Homo sapiens: one gene and its partner. The main gene of each other region encodes a partner of the protein of the gene in region 2 in a complex. Each region holds a gene or a part of one and is shown on either strand. Other genes may lie near its edges. The genes, in order: TMEM17 and TMEM231.

Region 1 (3,803 bases), on a different chromosome or scaffold from region 2:
AATTGAAAAGAGCAGTTTTTAATGCAGCTACAACTGTCCCTCAGTAAAATACATTATGAAGGCCCATTTCCCTATAGAAAAAAAGAAAACCTGTAATGAACATATCATATCCATTAAGACAGTCCAACAGTCACTTAAATATAATGTTCAGATACACCCAAGCAACTTTGTTCTTAACCAATTCTCCTAAAATAGATTTCTCCTATTAGCAAGGGAGCATGCTCATTTAGGATCATGAGTATAGTCCCTTTGGCCATCTTAGCTCTCATATGTATTAAGAGGCGCTCTGGTTTCCAAATCAAGCCTCACGTGAATTTAATGGGTATGAAGCAGTTCTTTGGTGAACAAGAACCTAGTAGATGCAATCACAAGTGCTAATTTAAAATGCCTACTACAGTGCCCACTACATAGAAAGTTCTCTAGGATTTGTTTTCCTTCCTTCTCTTGCAACTCTGTAATAAAAAACACAAATCTATAGCCCAAAATAATTGCACAAGACAAGGATGATTTGCTGCTGATACCTTAAATATTTAATAATTTATTGTAAAAGCATTTTGTATACCACCATTACAAATACTGAATATGGTTTTATGAAAGTTGTAATTTTATAACAAAAATATTTCCTAAATACCAAGGCAATCCACCTGTTTTCTTCTTCATCTCAGTATAACAGCTAATATTAGGGTTAGAATTTAACCCTAGCAGACATGAAAATTTGGTCTCTTGTTTTATTTTTTATTTATTTATTTTTTTGAGATGGAGTCTTGCTCTGTCACCCAGGATGGAGTACAGTGGCTTGATCTCGGCTCACTGCAAGCTCTGCCTCCTGGGTTCACACCATTCTCCTGCCTCAGCCTCCCAAGTAGCTGGGACTACAGGTGCCTGCAACCACGCCTAGCTAATTTTTTTTTTTTTTGTATTTTTAGTAGAGGCTGGGTTTCACCGTGTTAGCCAGGATGGTCTCGATCTTCTGACCTCATGATCTGCCCACCTCGGCCTCCCAAAGTGCTGGGATTACAGGCGTGAGCCACCACACCCAGCCGGTCTCTTGGTTTACAAATATAGACAAATACATAGGAACACTGACTGGTATTTCCATGTCAAGAAACATGGTCATATGTACAGACAAGACATGGATAACCAACAAGTTTTAAAGAAATGTATACATCTCTAGTTAAAGATTCTAACCAGAAATGCTACGAGAGAGCTGGCAAATGACAACCACCAATACATAGATTTCTACACTCCTGAAAAAGACAACAACATCAAAAAAAATTAAGAAATTTGGCATCAGGTGGACAACATCTAGGTTTTAGGGTTAATATACTGTTTCATATACTGTACAAAGTTTCATCATTGCCCCCAACCTTGGAATTTCAGAGTGAGAGCATATACAATTCAAAACACTTGCTTTGTCCCTTTTCTCAGAGCTCTGATATTTTCCTAACTCTTACAGTCTCTAGAATGATCTGTCAGATTTTCACTCAACAACACTGGATCAGATCTCTTCTATACATGACCTCATCCTTCTCATGTCTCCTCTGTTTGCAGAGAGCCGGTCAAAGTCTTGGAGGTGGAAACGAACTGCCAACTGATTAACCATTTTCCTTAAGGTAAGAAATGCTGCAACAACTTGGAAAGCAAGGAAGAGAGTGAAGATGATATGTATCGCTTTTTCCAAGGGCAGATTTGTTAGGCCTTCATTAAAGAGCAAGAAAAGAATTAAAGGTAACTGCAATAGAAGGCTCAAAAGCCAAAAGCCAGCCAACTCAGGAACCTGCAATGACACATATCAAGAGTAATAAAAATCAGTAAAATACAGTTTCTGTTTATACAGATAAACAAGTACTTATCACTACCGTGAACCTACATTATGGGCTCTGTGAGTGATTCCAAAGGAGGATGACATGGTCCTTGTCCTCAGAGAACTTACAGTCTAGATGAGAAAACTAATTCATGTAAAACAATCCTAGAATACTACACTTTAGTGAACAATTAAGTGCAATATTTAGAAGTACAGACTAAATGCTACAAGAAATAAGGGAGTGATTAGGGTAGGTGAAAGAAAGACCTCAGGGAGGTAGGCTTTTTAAGTTGTGGAGAAGAAGGAAGAGGCAAAAAGGTAAGTAAGCAAACACGTGAAATTAGCATGATTGGGAATCAGCACATCAGCCTGGAATGGATGGCTGAGTGAGAAAACAGCAAAACCTACAGTAAGACAGGCTGGGTGGGGCCTTATTATGAAGGGCCTAGAAAACCACGGGAATCTTTAGGCATTATCCCTATACTCTGGTAACCACAAATGCTTAGGCAGCATGATGATGCAGAAAACATGGGCCTGGCATAGGAAATGAATTCATAATTTTCCCCCATTTTCTTATTCAGGATCCAAATACACATGTTTAAGTAACCATGTATTTTCAAGACTGATAAGAAGAGGGAAAATATCAATTTTAAGTGTTTACTACATTCATATACTTTACATAAATCATTTCACTTAATCACAACAAACCTGTGAAGTAAATATTATTTTCCTCATTTTATATATGAGGAAACCAGGGCTCAAGAGATTAAGCAAACAGACCACAGTGACAGAAGTGGTAAAGCTGGAGTCAGGCTTTAAATTCAGGCCTGTGCTCTTTCTGCCACACCTCACTGCCTTTTACTTGTTATGAAAACTGATTTCATTTATATCTATCACTGAGAGAAAGGAAAAAAGAGCTTACCTTCTCCTGTAGGTTACCCACGTAGCCCAGATACAACCGGATGGCTTCAATTAAGGTTATTAGGATGATAACAGTGATCACAATGAATTTGTAGTAGTCAGGTAAGATTGAATACTAAAAGAAAAGCCAAAACATGTTTGTAAAATCTCATGTATAGTAACATTGATTTAAGATAGAAAAAATTATTAAGAACTTGAATTTTATTGACACTCTAACAACGTCAGGGCAGCAAAAGTATTAAAGCTTAGATTTACCTTCATGTGAAGCATCATAATGCTGCTCACCCACCACAGTGGGAAATAGTAGGTATTAAAATAAAGTGACATCTGCAGTGCCAAACTGGAGACCATTTCATTTTCTACAGAAGGAACAGAAAAGGAACAAATGATGAATCTTGGGTTTATGCCCTATATATATATATCCTATTCCCTAGAATTAATAACTATAATATTGGCTCAGTAAAACACCAAATTTTATGCCTATTTATAATCATTGACAGTAAAAGGAATATTCATCCTAATACCAGTTAGGTCAAATATTGGCTATTTGGGGGTACGTTTCATATTTTTCAATTATTTTACCATTTTGCCATTACAGTCTTCTGACTTTTTGGCATATACTACTGGTATAGATTTAATGTAGAATATCAACATAAATCCTATTCAACAGATAATTATCATTGCCTCTTTTGTAGAATTCTATGTAAATAGCATATAAAATTAATGCATAAAATAAATAAAAATGAATCTCCCACAGATAAACTAATCTTATACAAAAACGGATTACCAAGGTTATAATTAGACACATCTCTCTTTTCAGCATACCCTAATCTTAGCCATTCTTTAAAGTCCAATTCAGTGTCATCTTTTCCATCAATACTTCCTTCATCAGTTCCCCCACCTCAGCAGAAATACCTTTCCCCTTTAGGTACTTACCACTCTAAACTGTCAATAAGAAGTGCTAGCAAAGAACCACACTCCCCTCCCCAAAAAACAGTCTGGTGTACTGAACAGATCATGGGCTTCAGAGTTCAAGCAAATCCGAGCTCCCCAAACCTCTGTGACCCTGGATGTCAGA
Region 2 (3,825 bases):
ATGTGATCTTGCTTATTTTGCACTGATATTTTTTTCTTTTTTACAAATATGCCTGAATTTGTATGGAAATTTTAAGTAGCATGTCAGAATAGTCTTCTATGTCTCTAGAAGTCAACTTGTTAAAATAGAAAAACACCTAATCCTAATCATTATGCATTCCTCCAACAAACTCAAACTCAACAGAAAATCACCAAGCTCTATTTTTTTTTGTTTTTTTTTGAGCCGGGGTCTAACTCTATCGCCCAGGCTGGAGTGCAGTGACGCAATCACGGCTCACTACAACCTCCGCCTCCCAGGGTCAAGGAATTGTCCTGCCTCAGCCTCCTGAGGAGCTGGGATTACAAGTGCCCACCACCATGCCCAGCTAATTTTTTTATTTTTAGTAGAGACTGGGTCTCACCATGTTGGCCAGGCTGATCTTGAACTCCTGACCTCGGGTGATCCGCCCACCTCAGGCTCCCAAAGTGCTAGGATTATAGGCGTGAGCCACCGCACCCGGCCTTACCAAACTCTGTTTATAGATTCTGAAACCACGAGTGTCTTTGCTTCAGATTCTTGATGTTGGATCTTATCTCATCATTCGTGTGAGGACCTGAAAGCCTTGTGCATCTTTTAGTAGCAATCAATGAAATGAAAAAGGAAGCTATGTCAAATCAGCAAAGTATTAAAACCATATCTATTTGATAAATTACGGGCATGAAAGGAAAGAAGACAGAGGTCTGTAGAGGAAAAAAGACAAAATACAGCTTATGAAGCATATGTAGGCAGTGAAAAAAAACTGGTATCCACTCCTACCATCCACAGTCTTGCCAAACAGTGATGCTAAAATGATGATCAGGAAAGCACGGTTACTGAAAAGTGATCACTGCTGACATGGTCCCTCTGCACAACTCTGGATCTTTTTGCTACAACTGATCCTTTCCCACTGTGGATTCCCAGAACAATTCTACTATCGTGTAGCAGCATTCCCATCTGGATCCACCATCTATGGATTCATTTTGATTCCCACCATTACTATTACGTAAGGAAGAGATTTTTTGTGTGTGTGCTTTTTCAGGCTAATAATAAGGTCATTTGAAATGAAGAAATCTCAATTTTCAGAAACTTTCAATTATTTCTTTCTTTCTAGACAATAATGTTCCTTCTCTTAGGTCTTGTTTTAGAGAAACCTCCCTCCCTTTTCTCTTGGATACTTCCTCTCTGCCCTGTTTCATCAGCTTCGGGGAGGGATATCTGCTACCAGGGCTGATGATCAAGTTACTGAGGCAATGATGGACTAGTCATTATAGGTAGGATGAAAAGAGCCTGCCTTGCGGATCATGAGGTCAGAAGATCGAGACCATCCTGGCCAACATGGTGAAACCCCGTCTCTACTAAAAATACAAAAATTAGCTGGGAGTGGTGGCACGTGCCTGTAATCCCAGCTACTCAGGAGGCTGAGGCAGGAGAATCGCTTGAACCAGGGAGTTGGAGGTTGCAGTGAGCCAAGATCTTGCCACTGCACTCCAGCCTGGTGACAGAGCGAGACTCCATCTCAAAAAAATAAAATAAAAAATAAATAAAAGAGCCTGCCTTGTCTCCTGTGGATTTTCTTCAATTGGGATCTGGGTAGAAAATCTTATGTAACTCTCTGTGATGGATCCACACCTTCTAGATCTTTAGGGTTGGACAGGAAGAAAAGAGCACATTTCTCAACTTGCAACAGAGGATAGTGGCCAGGAGACAACTGCCAGAAGAATCCAGACTCCAACACACTGTGGGAGGGGGAAAAGCTCATTTCCTTTGATCTTTACAATAAATGTAAAGCCCCAGGCAGGCAGAACAGGTATTTTCCCATTACACAGATGACAAAATCAAGGATGAGTGAGATTAGGGCATTTATCAGAGGTACAGCAAGTAATGGTGAAGACAGGATTTGAGATCAGGTGACTTCAAATCTGGTCCTCTTTTTAGGACCAAAATGTCTAAAATTATTTTAAAAATTCCAAATGAAGACAGCAGGTTGGACAAATCTTCCTGAAAAACAGCAGCACCAGGCATCTACGTCTGTATACTTGCCTGTGCACATCCTTCCATTCCAAGTTCGCGGGGGACAGATTTGGCACAACACCATCAATAGTGTCTACTTGTTAAATTCACTCATTGATCTGTTACGTACTTTTTGGAAACACGCCAGGCACTATTTCAAATAATGAGACTATAATGGTAAACAAAATAGACAAAGTCCCCATCCTAATGGGGCATACATTCCCGATGGACAATGTAGAAAACAGTGACAAGTGCCGCTGACAGAAATGAAGCAGGCTAAAATTAGAGAATAATGAAGGTAAAATTTAACAGAAATTGGCCAGGCGTGGTGGCTTATGCCTATAATCCCAGCACTTTGGGAGGCCCAGGTGGGTGGATTGCTTGGGCTCAGGAGTTCGAGAGCAGCCTGGGCAACATGGCGATACCCTGCCTCTATTAAAAATACAAAAATTAGCTAGGCATGGTGGCGTGCACCTGTAATCCCAGCTACTAGGGAGGCTGAGGCAGGAGAATCGCTTGAACCCAGAAGGTGGAGGTTGCAGTGAGCCGAGATCGTGCCTCTGCACTCCAGCCTGGTGACAGAGCAAGACTCTATCTCAAACAAACAACAAAAAAACCCAAAAAGAATTTAACAGAAATTTTTAAATATTCAGGATGACCCAACTTGTTGGAGTCCTGAAGGAAGTGAAGTGATGGGGTGCAGGAACATCTCAGAGAGGAGGGATCCAGGCTAATCAGGTACATGTGCTCTGGGTACCCGTGGGATCAATGCATCTGGCAGAGTGGGTGAGAAGGAGAGCAGGGTGGAGAGAGGGGGGAGAGAAGTTTCGATGGAAAGGATGTGTCTCCCACAAATGACCTGTCACCAAGCTGGACTCTCACCCTCCTGGGGCTGGCGAAGTTTGGCTGTGCTCCTCTGTTATCACTTGGACCACTGAATAAATCAATTATTTAATTCCATTTAGTTGAAAGTAAGTTTAACATATGTGCAATAGCTAACAAAGGCAGGCATTCAAAGGCTACTACTTCTTTAACACAAATTCTAGGTCGCTATCTAACCTCCAACTGGTACTTAGCCAAGAGAATTCACATATCACACCACCACCTTATATCTACAACGTATATACAGGCTTTGGAACAATTTTTATATCCATTCATTGTCCCACGTGATTCCTCTGCATATCCCAGGAGAGATGTGGGTACTCTCATGCCCTGTATATGGATAGATAAATTGAGGGTGAGGTTATGAAACCCAGTGACAGAATTGGGACTAGGACCTTGTGGGACAAGGATCTTGGTTTGCTGACTCCTGATTCAGGGCTCTTCTATAATAGCTCATAAGAACTCTAACTGAAAAGATTTCTCATGGTTAAAGGAGGATAACCCTTTAGAGATACACATGAAATCCACACGCATGTACTGAGCAGAGTCAGAGGGAATTTTTTTGTTTTTTTTTTGAGACGAAGTCTTACTCTGTTGCCCAGGCTGGAGTGCAGTGGCACAATCGCCACTCACCGCAACCTCCACCTCCCAGGTTCGAGTGATTCTCCTGCCTCAGCTTCCTGACTAGCTGGGATTACAGGTGTGCGCCACTACGCCCAGCTGATTTTTGCATTTTTAGTAGAGATGGGGTTTCACCGTGTTGGCCAGGCTATTCTCAAACTCCTGACCTTGGGTGATCTGCCCGCCTCAGCCTCCCAAAGTGCTGGGATTACAGGCATGAGCCACCGCACCTGGCCAGAGGGAATTTAACATAGGGAATAAATAGTCCCATAGGTATTAGAGGACTGAAGACGT

What was found.
Region 1: TMEM231 (region 2) and TMEM17 share a complex: the UniProt entries of both Homo sapiens proteins name them as parts of the tectonic-like complex.

Annotation. Positions count from the first base shown.
Region 1 is NC_000002.12:62,499,711-62,503,513, forward strand, and holds the end of TMEM17 (transmembrane protein 17), read right to left. Parts: intron 3,085-3,803; coding exon 2,981-3,084; intron 2,841-2,980; coding exon 2,727-2,840; intron 1,778-2,726; coding exon 1,499-1,777; 3' UTR 508-1,498; downstream 1-507. UniProt on the Homo sapiens protein: Transmembrane component of the tectonic-like complex, a complex localized at the transition zone of primary cilia and acting as a barrier that prevents diffusion of transmembrane proteins between the cilia and plasma membranes.
Region 2 is NC_000016.10:75,546,242-75,550,066, forward strand, and holds part of TMEM231 (transmembrane protein 231), read right to left. Parts: intron 1-3,825. UniProt on the Homo sapiens protein: Transmembrane component of the tectonic-like complex, a complex localized at the transition zone of primary cilia and acting as a barrier that prevents diffusion of transmembrane proteins between the cilia and plasma membranes.